Regions from separate parts of the Homo sapiens genome. Here regions 2, 3 and 4 are each linked to region 1. The links come from fine-mapping of genetic effects on gene expression. A gene starts in region 1. Each other region holds a variant in brackets. All regions are shown on one strand. Distances are between the middles of the regions. Region 1 holds the start of DISC1 (DISC1 scaffold protein). Region 2 overlaps DISC1 (DISC1 scaffold protein). Region 3 overlaps TSNAX-DISC1 (TSNAX-DISC1 readthrough (NMD candidate)). Region 4 overlaps DISC1 (DISC1 scaffold protein).

The links.
Region 2: its variant is fine-mapped to the expression of DISC1 in skeletal muscle (GTEx, PIP 0.92).
Region 3: its variant is fine-mapped to the expression of DISC1 in whole blood (TOPMed, PIP 0.98).
Region 4: its variant is fine-mapped to the expression of DISC1 in whole blood (TOPMed, PIP 0.96).

What each region holds. Positions count from the first base shown.
Region 1 is chr1:231,624,207-231,629,206 of GRCh38, forward strand. DISC1 (DISC1 scaffold protein) reads left to right here and starts at 2,584. Exons shown (of 13, transcript NM_018662.3): 1 at 2,584-2,728. The coding sequence starts at 2,662. The region is part of intron 5 of TSNAX-DISC1 (TSNAX-DISC1 readthrough (NMD candidate)); the gene reads left to right. RefSeq lists silencers at 2,480-2,739, 3,070-3,129, 4,103-4,303.
Region 2 is chr1:231,796,592-231,801,793 of GRCh38, forward strand. DISC1 (DISC1 scaffold protein) reads left to right here. Exons shown (of 13, transcript NM_018662.3): 8 at 3,517-3,619. It overlaps TSNAX-DISC1 (TSNAX-DISC1 readthrough (NMD candidate)), which reads left to right. Exons shown (of 16, transcript NR_028393.1): 11 at 3,517-3,619. Among named protein-coding and RNA genes, the nearest start is that of DISC2, 19 kb to the right of the region's middle. The variant G/T (reference allele first, on the strand shown) is at 2,958.
Region 3 is chr1:231,600,773-231,605,974 of GRCh38, forward strand. The region is part of intron 4 of TSNAX-DISC1 (TSNAX-DISC1 readthrough (NMD candidate)); the gene reads left to right. The region is part of intron 1 of LINC00582 (long intergenic non-protein coding RNA 582); the gene reads right to left. Among named protein-coding and RNA genes, the nearest start is that of LINC00582, 8.7 kb to the right of the region's middle. The variant A/T (reference allele first, on the strand shown) is at 2,327.
Region 4 is chr1:232,027,336-232,032,537 of GRCh38, forward strand. All of the region lies in intron 12 of DISC1 (DISC1 scaffold protein), which reads left to right. All of the region lies in intron 15 of TSNAX-DISC1 (TSNAX-DISC1 readthrough (NMD candidate)), which reads left to right. It overlaps LOC124904549 (a long non-coding RNA gene), which reads left to right. Exons shown (of 2, transcript XR_007066941.1): 1 at 1-5,202. Among named protein-coding and RNA genes, the nearest start is that of DISC1-IT1, 100 kb to the left of the region's middle. The variant G/C (reference allele first, on the strand shown) is at 3,213.

The DNA of each region.
Region 1 (5,000 bases):
GCTCAGTGCAGCCTCGACCTCCTGAGCTAGAGTGATCCTCCTGCTTCAGCCTCCCAAGTAGCTGGGACTACAGGTACAGGCCACTGTGCTGGCTAATTAATTTTTTTTTTCTTTATAGAAAGGGTTTTGACAAGCAATGGGTAAAGAATTTCCTAAATGGTGATGGGATAACTGGCTAGTCATATGCAGAAGATTGAAACTGGACCTCTACCTTACAGTTTATACAAAGTTAACTAAAGATGTATTAAAGACTTAATTGTAAAACCCAAAACTATAAAATCCCTGCAAGACAACCTAGGCAATACCATTCAGGACATAGGCATGGGCAAAGATTTCACGACAAAGATGCCAAAAGCAAAAATTGACAACTGGGATCTAATTAAACTAAAGAGCTTCTGAACAGCAAAAGAAACTATCAACAGAGTAAACAGACAACCTACAGAATGGGAAAACAATTTTGCAAACTGTGATCTAACAAAGATCTAATATCCAGCATCTTATAAGGAACTTATATTTACAAGAAAAAACCAAACAACCCCATTAAAAAGTGAGCAAGGGACATGAACAGACACTTTTCAAAAGAAGACATATATGTGGACAACATTCATATAAAAAAAGCTCAACATCACTGATTATCAGATAAATGCAAATCAAAACCACAATGAAATACCACCTAACACCGGTCAGAATGGGTATTACTAAAAAGTCAAAAAATAACAGATGCTGGAGAAGTTGTGGAGAAAAAGGAACACTTTTACACTGTTGGTGGGAGTGTAAATTAGTTCAGCTATTGTGGAAGACAGTGTGGTGATTCCTCAAAGACCCAAAGACAGAAATATTGTTTGACCCAACAATCGTATGACTGGGTATACACCCAAAGGAATATAAATAATTCTATTATAAAGACACATGCACACACATGTTCACTGCAGCACTATTCACAACGGCAAATATATGGAATCAATCTAAATGCCCATCAATGATAGGCTGGATAAAAAAATATGGTACATATATACCATAGAATACTATGCAGCCATAAAAAAGAATGAGATCATGTCTTTTGCAGGGACATGGATGGAGCTGGAGGCCATTATTCTTAGCAAACTAACACAAGAACAGAAAACCAAACACTGCATGTTCTCACTTATAAGTGGGAGATAAATGATGAGAACACATGGACGCATAGAGGGGAACAGCACACACTGGTGCCTTTTGGAGGGCGGAGGGTAGGAGAAGGGCGAGGATCAAGAAAAACAACTAATGAGCACTAGGCTTAATACCTGGGTGACAAAATACTCTGTACAACAAACACCCATGACACAAGTTTACCTATGTAACAAACTGAACTTAAAAGTTAAAAAAAAAAAAGAGGTTCTTATTATGTTGCCCAGGCTGATCTCAAACTTCTGGACTCAAGTGAACTTCCACCTTGGCCTCCCAAAGTGCCTGGCCTTAGATATTCATACATTTATTTATTTTTAGAGATGTGGTGGGGGTGTGGGGGGTCTCTCTCTGTCACCTGGGCTGGAGTGCAGTGGCCCCATCATAGCTCACTGAAGCCTTGAACTCCTGGACTCAAGCAATCCTCCCACCTAAGCCTGCCGAGTAGCTGGGACTACAGGAGTGCACTACCATGCCGGGCAAACACACTGATTTTAAGTACAACTGTGTGCTTTCAGTCTTAAGATCTTCAGCTTTTGAAGGACCTCAGCCTTCCTCTAGTTCTAACTCCTCTCGTTCTAAGGAGATCCTTCCCATTCCTGCAGAACGTCTCCCCAACCCTTCTTCTTCACAGTTCTCCCTCCTATCCCTGAACCATTGCAAGAGGTTTTGTGCCAAGCCTCTGGCACATGGCACATTCTATCTCATGTTGTGATTTCGTTTTCTATGCACGTGCTCTCCTTCTAGCCTGGAGGTGAGCTGCTTAAGGGCAAAGAGCTCATGTGTAGCCCTTCCTTGTACCCATTGTCCTATAGCAGGTGCTACCTAGGGGGTGCTCCAGTAGCTTCCTTGAATGAACCAAAGAGAAGGGGTGAAGGGGGGAGTCAGTTGCCTAGGAGCTTGCATGGACTTCTGTGTCCTGGAACCAGCCCGGAGCTGCTGGAAGATGCTAGAAGTTGGAATCCTATCTCATTTCTAAACATCTGCTCCCACTCATCTCTTTCCAGGGTCATCAGTTATCCCCACTCCTCCCCCCCGCCCCCACTTTGTATAAATGAGCCCCTCACATCCCTCCATCTTCTCCATCACTGTGTGGTCACTTCTTAAATCATGCGTCTGGAAGGCGCCCTCCTGTACCCCATCCTGGAGGCTTCCTGCACTTCCCCTCTTGTTTCTTCCAGAAATGAGTCAGAGTGAAAGCAAACTTTCTGAGGTCCTGAGATCCCGGAGACAGGCTGTGAGGGCCGCTGGCCCCGCCCGCTCCAGCAGCGTGTGTGTGTATGTCTGTGTGTGTGTGTGTGCGCGCGCGCGCGCGCGTCAGGGGCCAATGCTGGAAAGGAAACAGCGGACTCGCTGAGGAGAAGAAAGGAGCCGCCCCCTTCGTCGCCAGCCCCCTCCCCACTTCCCGTCCAGCGCGCTGCTCCCTTCCCCCCGCCTCTGGCCTCGGGGAAGGAGCAGGAGGCAGCCCAGGCGGAGCGGGAGGAGCTGGCAGCGGGGCGCATGCCAGGCGGGGGTCCTCAGGGCGCCCCAGCCGCCGCCGGCGGCGGCGGCGTGAGCCACCGCGCAGGTAGGGGAGCTGCCACAGAGTCCTAGCACGTCCTGGGGGGGTCCTGGCAAGGAGGGCGCGCTCTGGCCCCCAGGAAGTCGCGTAGGTCAGGGCGTGCCTCTGTTAACAACCCCTTTCGAGGTGAGGGAAACTGAGGCAGGACGCGAGGCGTGCGAGGTTGAGAGAAGAGCGAGTCTTGGGCTGCCAGCCCGGCACCAGCGCCGAGCCGGGCCAGGTCCCTGACCCAGGACTGTGCAGCGATCCCCGGGACCCGCAGTTTGCGAAACTGTAGGAGTCTGACCCGCGCCCCCGCTGCGTGTCCAGGTGACCGGGAAAGGTTGCAGAGGCGTGCTTGGGGTTTGGATCCGTCCCCGTCCTGGGACACCTGCGCCGCCTGCACTCTCGTTGCGGTGCGCCCCAGCCTGCGCCCCCTCGGGACAGGGGACGTCCCGCCCGCCTTAACCCCAAGACCCAGCTGGATCTCGGGTTCCACCCCTTCGGGGACCTGGAGGGAGGAGGCTGGGAGCGGGACCAGGAACTGGTGCCTGTGCCTTCCCTAGGGGCTGCTCTGAAATCAGTGTCACCGCCCACTTCCTACTTGGCTACAGTAACGGGGATGGCCCAAGCCGGAGACTGCTCGGTTTCCACCGCCTGGAGCGCGGGTCTCGCTGTCAACTCTTAGTGATGATTGTGGATGGTTGTTTTTCAACAATGACAGGACTTCTACCTTCTCACTCTTAAAATGTGAGGTTTTCCAAAGACAGTGAGATTTGGAGTTAGGGAGTGCTGCCTTGTGTTCTTGCTGGGTGAGGACAGGGCTGGGTCAGTCGCTTAACCTCTCAGAGCCTCAGTCTCCTGAAATGTAAAGGAGAACACTCATAGCCTGGCCTCCATGTGTCGTTAGGTTTGTTGTATGGGAAATCAATTTGCAAAGTGTTATCATCAACTGGACAAATTTGAATTGGACAGCACTAGGACCATAGGAACTGGGGTTTGGAGACAGTCTGCCTGCATGTCAATCCTGGACATGCAGGAGACTATGACAGTACCTGCTTCATAGGGTTGTTATGCGGTTTAACTGTGATGGTGGAAGTGAAGCACCTCGCCCAATGCCTGAAATACCCAGTGCACTCTCAAAAAACCTTAGTTGCTATTTTTCCTAGGCAAAATCTAAATAATTGGGAGTAATGTGAGAATACCAGTTTGATTTGATTAATGCAGGAATAGTAGGGCATTTAAAAACACATGTAGTTCTCCTGTGCTCGGCATGGTACATGAAGTCCTCTGAGGTTCAGTTCTGTGCCACAGAGCAAAAAGAACCGTGGACAAGATACCCGCTTTTCGGGCTCTTTGACTTTGAGCCTGTTTTCTCATCTGTTTACAAAAAAGATAAAAGAAAAATGGGGGTAGTAATTACTGCCTTTTGTACTGATCGCATTGCCTGAGGATTAAATGAGGCAAAAGATCTGAAAGCACCTTGTGGAGTATGAGTCACTATGCACATATAAGACATGATAGTACTAGGAGGGAATGGTAACATCTGCAGGTTTTTAGAACTTACAATGTGCCAGACATTTTATTATGAATTCCTTTGATGAAATCCTCCCTGCATCTTTATGGGACTGGGATTACAGTCCTCATTTCCCTATGACAAAGCTGAGGTTCAGGGTCACCCTGCTTGGTTCCCAAGCTCACAGAGCTCTTAAGTGTAAAGCCAGGATTAGAACCCTGGTGTGGGTGCCACTCACAACTGTGTTCTTGGCCGCTTGCCAAACTGAACTTATAGAGTGGAGCTGTGATTCAGAACAGACCTATATTAGAATTTAGGTAATTTTTTTTTCTTTAGGAGACAGAGTCTTGCTCTGTCACCCAGGATGGAGTGCAGTGGCACAATCATGGCTCACTGTAGCCTTGAACTCCTGGGCTCAAGAGATCCTCCTGTTCCAGCTTTTTGAGTAGTTGGGATTACAGGCGCATGCCACCATGCCCAGCTAATTTTTTTTTTTAGAGTTGGAGTCTTGCTATGTTGCTCAGGCTGGTCTCGACCTCCTGGCTTCAATCATTCCTCCCACTTTGGCCTCCCAAAGCGCTAGGATTACAGGCATGAGCCACCAGGCCCAACCTCCATCCTGCATATCTATAGACCCAAAATGTAAGAGTGAACTGTTAATCCTGGCAAAAGAGGCTTTGGCATAATTTTAATTTCCCTCAGACTTATTTTATAAAATATACTTTAAACTATCTTCTTGTAAAACAAATGATGACAATTTGCAGAAAAGTTATTAAAACATTG
Region 2 (5,202 bases), 170 kb after region 1:
CAGTGATTTTGCTAAAGGTCACAGAGCCGCAGGTTTGATGGGTAATTATAACTTGTGTACAAAGAGAGCTTCCTGTTAGGAACAAGTGGTGCCCGTAAGACAGCATCGGAGCCAGGGACCCAGAAATGCTTGACTTCTGCTCTGCTCACCCAAAGGTTCTTTCACCCAGGCTGGAGTGTAATGGCATGATCATAGCTCACTCAGCCTTGATCTCCCGGGCTCAGGTAATCCTCCTGCCTCAGCCTCCCAAGTAGCTGGGACTACAGACACATGCTACCTTGCCCAGCTAAATTTGTTTGATTTTCAGTAGAGACCAGGTCTTGCTAGGTTGCCCAGGCTGGTCTTGAACTTCTGAGCTCAAGCGATCCTCCTGCCTCAGTGTGTCAAAATTGGGATTGCAGGCAAGAGCCACCGCACCTGGCCTCTCTTACATTTTCTGCTGTTTATCAGGTGCGTCCTGATTTCTATGTAGAATTAAAAGATGGGAGGACTGTCTTGGGTCTGAGTTTATTGACTATCTTCAGAACATACTGTATGGGTAATATGAATGCATCTGTACACCAACGTTGAGGATACAGGTGTGCCTATTATATAATGCAGATGGTGCTTATATGGGTGTGTGTATGACACTGTATATTGTGGATACACACATATACTGATACGCACCCAATATTAGGATTTGCTGAAAATTTCCAACTACTATTAAAGATCTTAGATTTTCCCAAATATCAAAAATGGGTTGTTTTGTTTGCATACAGTCCTACTCCATTTGAGTTGCTATAACAAAGTACTGTAGACGAGGTGGCTTATAAACAACAGAAATTTAATTCCCATCACTTTGAAGCCTGGAAGTCTGGGATTAGGGTTCCAGCATGGCTAAGTTCTGGTGAGAGGCCCTCTTACAGGCTGCAGACGGTTGACTTCTTGTTGTATTCCTGCATGGAAGAAAGAGGGCAAGGCGGGGTCTCTGGGGCTTCTTTATAAGGGTACTAATCCCCTTCATGGGGGCCCCACCTTCATGACCTGATCACCTCCCAAAGGCCCCACCTCCTAATGCCATCACCTTGGGAGTTAGACTTTCAACCTATGAATTCTGGGGGGAAAAAAACATCTCCAACCATTGCACATACCTTCTCTAATACATTTATAAAACTTTATAATTACTTCGCTTTTCCATAAAATTAAGGAACTCACATCTTTGATTTTAAAATGTAAACATAAAAGCCCCATTTGATAATGAGTTCCTTGGTGTCCAATTTTATTTGTAAATAAAAAGGATACACAGGTTTTCCGGGGATGTGTATGTGTGTGTGCAGAGGTGGATAGGTGTGTGTGCACAGACACGAATGTGTGTGTGTGTTGTGGGCAGGGGCCTATATTAGTCCACAGAGAATTAAAACAAAACTGTCCAGTCACACAAAACACCTTTCTCTGTACTTTAAACTAGATTGACCAGTGACCATGAGCTGAGACCAAGGTCTCAGCTTGACATAGCTTTCTTTCTCTAGTGTGTTAGACACACCACACACACACACACACACACATACACACACACCCCTACCTGATATTCTTTAGACTCCTGTCTCAGAAAGAAATGAAACCTTCCTTGCACTCATTACATTTCTTAAACTCTTATGGGTTACCCAAACCAAAAGTAATTAAGGGATAAATGAGATGGAAGAAACAGTTGGAAATAAATGGGATATCTGGAGATTGGTAGATATTAGATTACATCCAGCAGAGCCTGAAAGAATGAACATTGCAATTTAATAAGAAGATTCAGAAAGGTTGTTTAGTATTAATATTGACAGCTTGAAAGATAGATTTGCTCAACAAAGGAGAAACTGACTCAATTATGATTAACAGATACTGTTCACTAAAATCAGAAATATTGGACATAGACTGGATGAGACATAAGAATTATGGCTGGTATTACAGAGTTAATGGAAATGCCCTCAGACCTCAGATGACATTATTAAATAGATAGGATGGGATGTGCCAGTCATCTGGTTTGAGCCAAACTAAGACTTGGTGCTGGGGGAAGGGATATCTTCCTTTTAACTCTGAAAAGTCTCAAGACTGTTGAAAGGGTCTCGGAATTAATTACTTTGGACATGCGGATGCCCAACATCACCAGTGCATGCTTTGGTTTAGAGGCTACCAAACTGTCGTCTTCATCCAGAGAATGATTTTTATAAAAAAGATGTTGGAAAATTACAGCCACTGAATAGAACATATGGAAGTCCATGAGAGAAAGAGTGGAGTATTTTAGGCAGGATGGATGAGGTCTGCTTTGACTCCAAAAATAATCTCAATTCAAACTGATATAAGAAAACATTTAAAGTTGATGGTGTCCCACAAACCTTAGATTCTTCTGGGAAATTAAATTTTTCTAGGTAGCTCATTAATCTGAGTCTAGATAACATTGGCATATGAAAAGTCTTGAGACTGTTGAAAGGGTTCAAAAAAGGAAAAAAATGTGATGTTTTAGCCTCCAACAAAATAAAAGATAACCTAAAGACATTTGGAAAAAGAAATTAAGATTTAAGATTTTTGCTATTTTTGAAAAACCAAAGAAAAAAACTGTAGGATGTGTTTGGAATGTCATGGGAAAATACATGATAAAACTCTCAAACCTCACTGAGAGTTACTTGTCTATTTTTCAAATCTGACTTGCCAGCAAGTATCTATCTGCCTTCAAAGTTTCCCTAAACAGTGTCTATTAATACTAGTAATTAAATTTAGCTTGCAGCTTTGACCTTCATCTCAATGGCCATATCTTTATTCACTGCGTACTATGTGCCAGGCACAGAGCAAAATCCCTGCTCACATAGAGCTCGTATCCCGGCAGAGAGACAATGTGGAAACAAAGGAATAGAATTACATGGTGTATCATCTGAGAAGAAGCTGTGGAAGAACATCAAGCGGAGGGAGGGCCAAGGGAGGTTGCTATTTTG[G/T]GTGGGTAATCAGTAAGGCCTTTCCTCCCAGGCAGCGACTGAGCAGTCTGGAAGGGTATGAGTGAGCCAAACCACCTGGGACTACAAAAGTGATGCAGACAGGAGGATTCGGCAGAGGCCTGGAGAAGGCAGGAGGCAGGAGTGATGCAATTATGTTACCTTGTGGTTGCTCTCTGTTAGCTCCTATCAGTTTTGTAATTGGATGTGGGGTGATGATGGGCATATGCTTGGAATATGCCATTGCTCACTTTATTTTTGTTCTTCTTCCTACATTTCCCTCCCTCTTTCCCTTCTCTTTCCTTCCCTTCCTTTCCCTTCCCTTCCCCTTCCCCTTCCCTCCTTCCCTTCCTCCCTTCCTCCCTTCTTCCCTTCCTCCCTTTCTCCCTCTCTTCTTTGTCTTTCTTTTTCCATTGCTTGCTTTTTGAACATTGTCTTCCAATTACTTTTCATCACCCCTTTTAATTACTTACAAACCCAGAAATCTCTGACCTGGCTGTTCCACTGCCTTCTGATTTTTAGCTGAATAAATGATGATTCCTGGTCATTTCTCTCCCCCTAGGTGTGTATGAGTGAGAAATTCTGCAGCACCCTGAGGAAGAAAGTTAACGATATTGAAACCCAACTACCAGCCTTGCTTGAAGCCAAAATGCATGCCATATCAGGTAACTGGCAGTGTAGGAGACGTTGAAGCTATCCAACTAAAATAATGACAGCTACCAGCACATCGTGTTTTGTCCTCGATGAACATTCCACTGTTATTATGTCATTCTCAGACATCTGAAAGCTTTTCTGGGAAGTTTCACTAATATGCACATAATATAGCACAAGGTGTTTAAGTGAGTACCGTATTTGGGATTTCTAGTTCCTGTTTCTTGAAGAGTTTAGAGACTAAATGTACTCTGTGTGCCATATGATTCTAGCAGATGTGTATGTAGCATTGTGTATCTGTAAATACTGAATGAGGATTATTGGGTGTGATCAGACCCTTTCTATAGAGGGAAGGATGGTAACATGAGACAAATTAATGTCCTCAGTTTGAAAATCTAGTCATAGAAACTTGGCGAATCCTCAAAGGATTATGCTCCCTCTTACTCTGGCAGTTATTAAGGAATTGATTTTTCCATTAATTAGTAGCTTGAAGTCAAGAGTCTCTGAAAACAGTATCTTATCCTATCATTAGTGCTTTCAAACACTCCTCTGGATTTGTTATTTTATTTTCACAATTGCTATATTAGGTAGATGGGAGAGAGACCGTGATCCGAATGGACTGATGGGGAGGTTGAGGCTGCGGGATGTGTCCTTTGGTTAAGGTCACTCAATTAGCTAAGCAGTGGCAGATCTGGGGCTAAAGTCCAGGCCCTCTCTCGGTGTATTATATATGGATTTTTAACCCAGTTATGTAATGACAGCTTCAAAAAGTTCTCTGAGTTTTATAGGTTGAATGGACCCAGAGCTCATCAGCTTCAAAAGAATCATAAAAATTTAACAAAAAGTTATAATAATTACATGTATGTGTTTTAAATGGTATTTTAAGAAGGAATACAATAATTGGCAGCTTCTGCTCCTCAGATCATTAAACAACTAATGTTGGCAGCTAAAGAGCAATTTGGTCCCTGGTGCAGTCACGCGTATTATTTACAACCAGTAGAACATGGCAGCGCAAATGTGGGGCTTGGCTCTTAACAGCTTCACATGCCATTTACTTGAAATTATGGGCCCATTTGCTGAGAGAAAAAAAAAGAAGATTGAACACAGTCTTGCTTCTGAGTTAGGGTTTTTGCCTTTCTTAATCAATATATCTTTCCCAGGAATACCGGTGGATGAGTCTGTGTTAAGCCCAAGGGAAGAAATGTATAATTCAGGCAGCAGAGATAGCCTCACTCCAATGTGAACAATCTCTCTTCAGACTCCAGGGAAAATGCCCAAGATGGTATATTGCGTATGGCGCAGGTTTCCTGTTTTAGCTCTTTGGTCAGCTGAGAAAATTGGTGAGGCCTGATCTGCTGAAGGATGACCTGAATTAACCCTCCTGGTAACTGACCTTTTGACCTCACTATTTTCTGGTTGCTCTGTATGCTCTTTGGTGGACCGGCCTTTCAGTCAATGGGCTGTCCCCATAGGTGATACTAGTGTTAAGGTGGTCAACATTTGTTTGCAACTCCTGCATATAATGCTATTTCTGTTTTCTCCTGTTTCAATACCTTCAGAATGGGCAAACCCTCACTCCATTAGGTAAGATTCTTAA
Region 3 (5,202 bases), 23 kb before region 1:
CATAGACATATAAATATATAATGTACATGAACAAATGACCAGTAAACTTTGACATCTGGTTTTTATCTTAAGTCTGTTTCTTTGTCTTGTCACTGTGGAAAAAAACCCGGAAAAGTCTTGAAAGCTAATTAGCTCCAAATTTATTTTAGGAATGAAGGGCCAAAGAGTTTTGATGACAAATTTTTCTTTGTTGCAGCTGCCAAGCTGGTCTCTGACCCCTCAATTTAATGGAAGTGATTATTTATTTGCACATACGTCCTTTGTTTTTTTCAATACAGAACTCTCTTTCCTGGAAATAGGCACCTAGCTTCTAATTCCCATTTGCAAAGAATTTGCTGTCTTAAACAAGCTTTAAAATACTGTACTAAACATCTCTTTCAATATATTCCTTTATTAAACTGATTTCTAGGCTTTATCAGAGGGAATGTATAATAATAATATGTATTGTTTTTTGAGTTTACATTTTCCTTCAAATTAAAAAATTTTTTTCTTATAAGACTAATTTCCCACCCAGTTTACATATTCTTAGTGGGTGTGCATGCAAACACACACGTATGTACACATATACACACACAGTTTATACATTCTTGTCTTTTTCATTATATTTATGAATATGTTATTTTGGTATAGGTGTAAATGAAAAGTTATTAATTTCAGGTTATTGATTGTCTATTATTTTGAAAGACCAAAGTTTGACTTAATTCCACTTATCATAATCACAAAACTTCTGGTGGGCTATCTCATCCTTTTAAAGCAGTTAAATAGCTTTTATATAAATATGAATATATAATATGTACACAAATGTATGTACCCATACATATTTGAGAAATATATATAATACATATGGCATATATATGAAAGCACCACTGAATCAGACACATTATATACATTTCTCTTGATTTTAGAGCAAAAAGCGTTTAGGGGGAAATGTATAGGCTGAAGTTAAAGATTTGGGAACTCAGTGGTCATAAAGTTGCTGGTCTAATGATGTCAATGTCAGTCCTCCAGCCTAATGGGAAAGGTATGGAGAACCCCTTAGCTTTCTTCTCAACAGAACTTGTCTCCTTTTCCTCCTCTGCACACTGTGAGACTTTGTAGGACTTAGAAGGCTATGTCTGTGAATCAGCCAGGAAATAGATCTCTCTGCTGGGCTTAATCAACCTCTGCTGCCCTTAGGTCTTCGCAGAGGTCCTGGGATTGCAGGTTCTGGACCTAGCCCAAGGAAGCTCAGTTTTTCCTTGCCAAAATCTACGCAAATAACATCCAGAAGTGGATCACTTTTTCTTTTTTTTAAGAGCATGAATTTAAGTGTCACTCATTCTCCCATGTAAACATTGGCATAAATAGCTGATTTTATCCTTGGGATGGCATAGTCTATCCCACGACTGCCAAAAGAACCTGGACCCTGCCATGGTAAATAAACCCCTCATCTTGCCCAAGAAGAAGGACATTTATATGGTTATAAATACCTACATTTTATTACAGGCTTAAAATTTGATACAAAATGTAAACATTGTGTTTGGCATAGTTGGGAGTAAATTTACATTGCTAATGGTTGCAAAACAAAAATAAGCTTTAGTTAGCAAAGAAAACTTTAATAATTCTATTGAAAATAAATTTTACTGCTATGGCAACTGTAGAACAAAGATAATAAACAAAAGATAACCATGGCGTGAAACCATATCACATTTGTGGGCCATGGGCTGGGAGATTGAATCCTTAGTACTTCTTATGAAAACACAGTGCTTCAGTCAATTTCTGGATCTTACTATCGGCATACTGTTATGAAGACACATTATTCTGCTTAGTCTGCTTGCCTTTTAGTGAACTTAGTTATATTCATGTCTAAAAAAACCTGTAAACTTATTATGCATGACTCATTTTTTCATAGTCTTCAAAATGATTGTAAGGATAGATAATGATCTAGTAAACTAATGTTACAATTAACTATTAATCATTGGCTATTTAGATTTATAGTTTCACTTTTGTAGTTTTTGCCTCTATTGACATATTTTCTAAGGATAAATTTGTAGGAATAAAATTCTTGTGTGAAGGGGTTATTGATATTTATTTTTCTTTTCTTTTCTTTTCTTTTTTTTTTTTTGAGACGAAGTCTAGCTCTGTCACCCAGGCTCCGCCTCCCGGGTGCAAGCGATTCTCCTGCCTCAGCCTCCTGAGTAACTGGGATTACAGGTGCTAATCATGCCCAGCTAATTTTTGTATTTTTAGTAGAGACAGGGGTTCCACCATGTTGGCCAGGCTGACCTCCTCAAGCACTCCTGACCTCAAGCAGTCCGACCATCTCGGCCTCTCAAAGTGCTGGGAT[A/T]AAGGCGTGAGCCACCACGCCCGGCCCATTTATTTTTCTTATTTAAACATTTTCTTCCTTTGACTTGTTTGCTTGTGTTTGTTCTCAGTTTTTAGAATCATTAAACATTTTGGCCATATAGAAAAATATACAGAAGCCTGGCCGGGCGTGGTGACTCACGCCTGTAATCCCAGCACTTTGGGAGGCCGAGGCGGGCGGATCAGGAGGTCAGGAGATCGAGACCATCCTGGCTAACACGGTGAAACCCTGTCTCTATTAAAAATACAAAAAATTAGCCGGGCGTGGTGGCGGGCTCCTGTAGTCCCAGCTACTCGGGAGGCTGAAGCAGGAGAATGGCGTGAACCCGGGAGGCGGAGCTTGCAGCGAGCCGAGATTGCGCCACCGCACTCCAGCTTGGGTGACAGAGTGAGACTCCGTCTCAAAAAAAAAAAAAAAAAAAAAAAAAAATACAGAAGGCTTTTATTTTATTTATCTTTACGACCTTTTCCCCTGTTGTTTAGGCACTTGTGTGAGCTCAAGAAACATCTAATGAATCAAAAGATAGTCCTTTGGTGCTTTAGAAATGTGGTTTTGAGATTAAGTCAAATCAATAAGTCTTTATTGAGCGTGTGTTAAGTACAATAGCACAGACCAAAGCGCAAAGAGATTCTGGGGATTTCGACTTATGAGTTAATTCAGGCTCCACTAGGGCAGAAGCTGTTGTTCACTTTTCTCCTTCTTGGGTGACAGGTGGGTCTGCATCACAGCTGCTCTGGAGGAAGAGCAGCCATCTCTTCCTGCTGTCACCATTGCCTTGGTAGGACTGGTGTGTGTATGGGTGTGTACTTGTCTTTCTTAACCTTTCACTTTTGAAGATCTTCCTTCTTCATCTTGTCCTGCCCTCTGGAAGGTGAGAAGTTGCTTGTGTTATCTCCATTTGTGTGCAGTCTAAAATGGCTACAGGGCATTCTAAGCAAAGGGGCTCGAGGAGGAGATGTTGGATATCTCAGGAGAAGACCCTGAAGAAATCCCTTCTCCCTAGAGGAAAAAAGTCGCGGGCAGCAATCGAGATGGCTCTACCGAATAAAGCAGTTTTTAGTCAACTTCTACCACCTAGTGGCCATTTCTGAGAGGCTCTTTTCCCCTTTATTTATTTTTAAAAGTATTTTGACATATGCAAAGACATTTGTATCTGTCAATCCATGTTTTCTTTAAAAATGTCAAGATCAAAATAACACAGTGTCACAAAGAGAAGTAATCATTGCAAGAACTAAAACCCAGAGATGCTTAAAGATGGTTCTTGGGCAACCACTTATATTTTAGTTTGTTCCCTTCAGTCCTATTTGAATTTTTAAAATTCTATTTGAATTTTTATTGTCACATGTGTATGATACTTTTATAATATATATTTTAAGTTTTTAAATTTATAAAGGTCTTTTTAATATATAAATAGAGCCGGGCAAGGTGGCTCATGCCTGTAATCCTAGCACTTTGGGAGGCCAAGGCTGGCAGATCACCTGAGGTCAGGAGTTCGAGACCAGCCTGGCCAACATGGTGAAACCCCATCTCTACTAAAAATACAAAAAATTAGCCAGGGATGGTGGTGCACGCCTGTAATCCCAGCTATTCGGGGGGCTGAAGCAGGAGAATTGCTTGAACTGGGGAGGCAGAGGTTGCAGTGAGCAGAGATCTCGCCACTGCACTCCAGCCTGGGCGACAAAGTGAGACTCAATCTAAAATATACATACACACACACACACACACACACACACACACGTTTTGAGGGGTGTTAATTTCTGGCAATTAGTGCAAAAGGTGTATTAAATATGAATGTGAAAAAAGTTTAAAAGGAAAAATTTTAAATGTTTGTTTTTCAGATAACCTTATATAACATGGGAAATAAACATTACTTAAAAATTTACTTCATTTGCTCCTACTTCACCAAATCAAATGGTTTCCATTTCTCAGGTTGTTTTCATTCATTGATCGATATGCAAACGTAGTTTTTCTCTCATATATAACAGTCCATCCAGATTTTCTGACATGGGATCAGAATCTTTAAATGCTTCATTATAGAAACATCACCATCTACAAGGGGGCATGAGTGAAATCAGTAGAATTTTCTTTGCTTGAGATCTCTTTTGCCAGAAGGGCAAGTGGCTTTTGTCAAATGAATTGTGTTTTGATGAAACAGTGTAGCTGATACTCAGAAGCCTGGAGCAAACCTTCTGGTACAGGAGAGGGCCCTTCTGTTGTGTAAGTTTTGCAGTAGCACAGACTGCATTTTTAGCTCTGACACAGTCTTCGTGATTTTGGACAAAAACTAGACTTTCAGACTCGATTCCTTGGTGCATTAGTTTGCTAGGACTGCCATAGCAAAGTACCACAGACTGTGGCTTAAACAGCAGAAATGTATTGTCTCACAGTTCTGGAGGCTGGAAGTCTGAGATCAACGTGTTGGCTGGGTTGGTTTCCTATGAGACTGCTTCTCTTGGTTTGCAGGCAGCTGCTGTCTTGATGTGCCCTCACGTGGTCACCCCTCAGGGTGTGTCTGTGTCCTGTGTCTGTGGCCTCATCTCCTCTTCGTATACGAATATCAATCATATTAGATTAGGGTCCACCCTTAATGACCTCATTTTAACCCAATTGCCTCCTTAAAGATCCTATTTCTAAATACGGTCACATTCAGAAGCACTGGGGCTTAGGGCTTCAGCACTTGAATTTTGGAAGTCACAACTCAGCTCATAGTGCCTGGCTTGGGAATATGGCTAATAATTTCGCCTGGCAGAATTGTGCAGTTGTGAGGTCATGTTTAGAAAACTCCTGGTGTGATGCCAAGGTGCACAGTAGCTGCTCAATGAACAAGCTGTTATTCCTACTTCAGTTTGGATTTTGAA
Region 4 (5,202 bases), 400 kb after region 1:
ATACACATGGTTGAACTCAATTTAGTCCTTTCTGCTTCCCGGTGATAGAATTTCTTGCACCAGACTTAATATCCTTGGTGTCACACCTACAAACACCTTCATCAAAACTAGCTGCTAGTGAGCAAGATGGCCTGAGAACATACTGGCTTAGGTATGCATCCGTATGAAGCACTCCATTCTGTGTTGATCTGTGGACGCAGTTTGTCACTGGTTAGTTCTGCTGAGAGCAAATGGGTGGGTACCCAGTGGATGAAGGGATATGCAGCCCTATATCCTTTCAGTTATTTAATCACAAGTTGACACTTCTCTAGCTAAAAACACTTCCCTATTCATTCATCTTTCTATTCAGTAGAATGTCTTTTATTAGATGCGTTTGTGGCAAATTTAGCTATTTTGGTCTTTGCTTGTCATTGCTGTCTTACTTTTTAGAATTCCAGTTTTTACCATACTTTATGGGCTGTGTGTGTGTGTGTGTGTGTGTGTGTGTGTGTGTGTATAAGTAGCTTTGAATGGCCAAGGATTAATCTTAGTCATAAATACTCAGATCTGTGATTTAATGATAGAGCCAATGCTACACTTCCTTCCTTGTTATAACTTTACATTTTTGACCTTGTTTATTAAGCTGGGCAGAAAATTTCTTCAACTTAATCTGCAATGATTTTCACATTGCTTTAGGTAGATTTTGAAAAGCAGATATTCTGTTCTTCATAATTTCCTGCCTCTTAAAAATCTTGTATTTAAGCTATTATCAGAAAGTTTCCCAAAGAAGCATACAAACATAGAATAAGGATGGCGTTTTTATTTATTCCATGTTCATGGGATCACAAATCTTTGAGCACGTGTAAGGGGGTATGGCTTCCAGCAAATGGGCAGGTGATGGGGCACAGAGGAGGAGTCCGCTGCAGAGAGTCAATGGATATGAAGGGGTTCCCGTTCCCCAGCTCAGCAGATGGGCAGTTCCTAAGTGGGTTGTACCTCTGTCTTCAGGTAGCAGTTCTGAGGGCTGCAGTCAGGGTTCTGTACTGGTCTCTTATTGTGAAATTTTCTAAAAGGTTAGTTTGATTCTGGGGAATTGGATCTTATTTTTACTAGAGCTGGGGAGGCAGCTCTAGTAAAGACCCCTGAAAAACAAGGGGTTAAGCAGTATTTAAACAAGATCCTTTTAGTTTTTCCACAGCTGATCCAAGCCAGATTTAATAGCAGCGGGATCATGGACAAGTGATAATGCCTCTTTAAGCATTAGGGTTCCCATCTGTAATGTCAGGATAACATACACCTCTAAGGTTTTTATGGGGGTTAAATAAGGCTATATTCATAATGTACATTTAATATAGCCATGGGTAAGTGCATGATTTTAGGTAGAAAAGTGTTATCCAAGTCCATTTGTCTCACAGTTCTTAGTATATTAGTCACAAGCTCCAAGAACATCCCATTTATACACAAAAAGTTTCAAGGTAGATTGATTCAACTATTTTGTAATAAATGCTTGAAGGAATCAATCAGTAACTCCACAGTGGCTTAGATGAAAAGTCATTTAATTATAATAAAACTTCTATAAATGGATAGGGATTATTATCCCTACTTGACAGTCGAAAAAAACAAGGCTTGGGAACAACTTGGCTGACACAAGGTCATTTCTGATGAGTAGCAGAACTTTTCAGCCACAAGCCCCATGGTCCTATTAGGCCCATCAGAAAGCAGCCATTGCCTATAAGTAAATGGACAGGTCTGTTCCATGGAACACACAATTACTTTAAATTTTTAAGCTATAATAAAAGTATTTCACTGATGTTATGTTTTTTGAGAATTTCACTGATCTCTGTTGTGATAAGCGGAGAAGCACTGGTTTAGGTACTGAAGTCAGCTCTCTCCCTCCCTCCAATAAAATCTACACCACGATATGGATTTCAACCCAGACTTTTCTTCGAATCCCAGTCTTCTGTCACTGATTGAGAATAAATACACAGAAGGTGTCTTTGAATTCATACAAAGCAGCACTTAAATTTGAGTGGAACATTATGCCCTAAGATAGAAAGACATGTTTACAAGGCTCTACGGAGGCTCCCCTACACAAACCAAAGCCGTTGTTTCAAATTAGAGCTTATCTAGAGATTCAGAGAGGCTGCCAGAATCCTCCAGCCAAACTCTGACTGGTTTGTATTTCCATGTTTGATCAAAGATACAATGCTGAGTGTGGCTGAAAGAAACAGCTTGTTGTCAACAATACAGAAGGATTGCACAGTGAGTGCAGTGTTTTGTTTGATTCCATTAAGCATGCTGCCAGAGCCTACTGTGCATGTGAGGTACCCAATTAATCTAAGTCCACATTGGAATGTGATTAATGTAAGCCCACATTGGACGTCCACGTCTGAAAGATTCAAGCCACAGATGCTACCATGGATGTTTATTCTTTGTGTGGAAAACACTCAGTTTTTGCATAAACCATGTGTGTACATAAGGGCTATTAGTGTGGCATCAACAGAGGTTAGGGGTGGGCAGTGGGACTGAGTTTCCAAATAGGTCCTTGTGGCCTCCTGATTTAATATCCGAGTTATGGGCAGCCTCATGGGTGTCTCCTACTTTTATTAAGAAGACACTGATTGACCAATCCAAGGAGGGAGAGGAAAGAGCCTTTGCCTCTTCATCGTCCTGACAGGCTCACCAAATTACATGTAGCATGACCAAAGAACAACACAAACCCATCAGCTACTGTGGCAGCGAGTGTCTGAAAACAGTCTGCACCATTAATTGGGAGAGCTGGTGGTGGAGAGGTGGCTCACGCCTAGTGCCTGAGAAGGGGACAGGAGGTGTGACTTCACGGCCAGTCAAGTCGGGACTTCCAGGAGCATTAGTGTGAGTCTCTAGTGCATTTTCACAGTCATCTGGGGTCCTAATTAGCAGTATGTTTTGAAAAACATTTTGACTGTGTGCAAGGTCTCCTCCACGCTCAAAATATTGTAACCAAAAGCCTTCCAAATTAAGGTGGATTTTTAAGCAGGAATTTTCTCATTTTCTTCCTCCTTCAATTTCTACAACACACTTTCAAAGGAAAAGAAGTACACCTGTGATATGTACATTTTTGGCATATTTCAAAGCCCTCAGGGCAGTTCTGCCTGGCCCTCAGTCATAGACGAGGTAGAGACACTCTGATTCTATTTGTGGTTGTATTTACATCCATGTCTGGGAAGCCCTTATGGAATTCTGTTTCTCTG[G/C]TTATTTGGAGTGCATGGTGCCCAATTGTTTAGTTTTGGTGGTGCTTGAGGGCATGCTCTAAATACATCCAGGTTTGTGCACAAATACCACAGCTCCGTAGGACCCTTGTTTAGTTCAACTTTCCAAATTTTAGCGTGAACAGACAAAGGTAACGAGAGTTTTGGGAGACTGTCCTGCCTCCTTGGAGATGTTTTCCACTTCTAGAGCTGAGGGGCTGGAAGAGGGATCATGAGGATCATGGAGCTCCACTCATGTAGTTTATAGATAAGAAAATCCAGAGCCTGGCCAGGTGCGGTGGCTTACATCTTAATCCCGGCACTTTGGGAGGCTGAGGTGGATGGATTGTTTGAGACCAGGAGTTTGAGACCAGCCTAGGCAACATGGCAAAACCCTGTCTCTATTAAAAATACAAAAATTAACTGGGCGTGATGGTGCACACCTGTAGTCCCAGCTACTCCAGAGGCGTGAGAATTGCTTGAACCCAGGAGGTGGAGGTCGCAGTGAGCTGAGACTGCACACTACTACACTCCAGCCTGGGCAACAAAGTAAGACACTGCCAAAGAAGGAGGGAGGGAAGGAAGGAAGGAAGGAGGGAGAGAGGAGAGAGAGAGAGAGAACAGGAAGGAAGGAAGGGAGAAAGGAGAGACAGAGAGAGAGGAAGGAAGGAAGGGAGAAAGAGAGAGAGAAAGAGAGGAAGGAAGGAAGGAGAAAGAAAGATAAAGAAAGAAAAAGAAAGAAAAGAGGAAGGAAGGAAGGAGAGAGGGAAGGAGAGAAAAGGAAAGGAAAAGGAAAAGAGGAAAGAAAAGGAAAGGGAAGGGAGAGGGAAAGGAGAAGGGAAAGGAAGAGAAGGGAAGAAGGGAAGGGAGAAGAGACAAGGGAAAGGAGAAGGGAAAAGGGAAAGGAGAAGGGAAGGGAGAAGGGAAGGGAGCAAAAGGGAAGGAAAGAAAGAAAGGAAAGGAAAGGAAAGAAAGAAAAGGAAAGGAAAGAAAGAAAACCCAGAGCCTAAGATGACAGTATCTAAAGCTTTGTGTGTGATGGGCTGGTGCAGATATAGTAGTCACAGTTCTTTCCTTAGGCTCTCACTTGGCTTTGGAGTGGGACGGGGAAGAGTTGGAGCCCCACAGTGGGTGGGGGAGGGCAAGGGCGTAGACACAGGGCTGTCCTGCTGCTGGCTGAGCACGAGGTGGGCTTGGCACAAGGTAGGCAACACAGAGTTTCTGTGTACAAGCATCAAATCCTTTGAATCAATCTTGGGTATAGTCAAGGTTTTCCTCTTTGCTCTTGAAAGACTGTGATCCTCATGGCTTTTCCATGAGGATCTCCAGTACCAAATTCTCCAGCACTATGGGCTGTAGTGGCTACCCAGGAAGGAATGGTGGTAAGAAGAAATAATGTAGCAAAAGAGTAGCACTTTCAAAGGATAAGAGAGTCCCTTATCTGAAATGCTTGGGACTAGAAGTGTTTTGAAGTTCTGCTTTTTTTCAGATTGTGGAATATTTGCATTATACTTACCAGTGGAGCATACCAAATCCAAAAATCCCAAATCTGAAATGTTCCAATGAGCATTTCCTTTGAACATCACGTCAGTGCTCAGAAGGTTTTGGATTCTGGAGCATTTCAGATTTTGGATTTGGGGATTTGGGATGCTCAACTTGTTCTATTGTTTCTTTTTGAATCAAACTAGGTCAGATGAACCGAAGACCTAAATTTGACTAAGCCATTGAAATGCTTACTTGGACACTTCATTAACAGTAAAACACTCAATTGTTTTCTTATAAAAACAGAAGACTCCATCTAAAGAATTCCAGGATCTTTTGCAAATGGTACCCCAAATGACAATATTGCCTTATCATCTATTCCTGAATGCACCTGTCCTGCTGTCTTACTCCTTTGCTAATTGCAAACACAGACATTTTAACAAGTTACATGCTTACCTACCATGTGGATAGTCTATTCCAAGGAGGTACAGAATGGCCTTGGGTTCCAAAG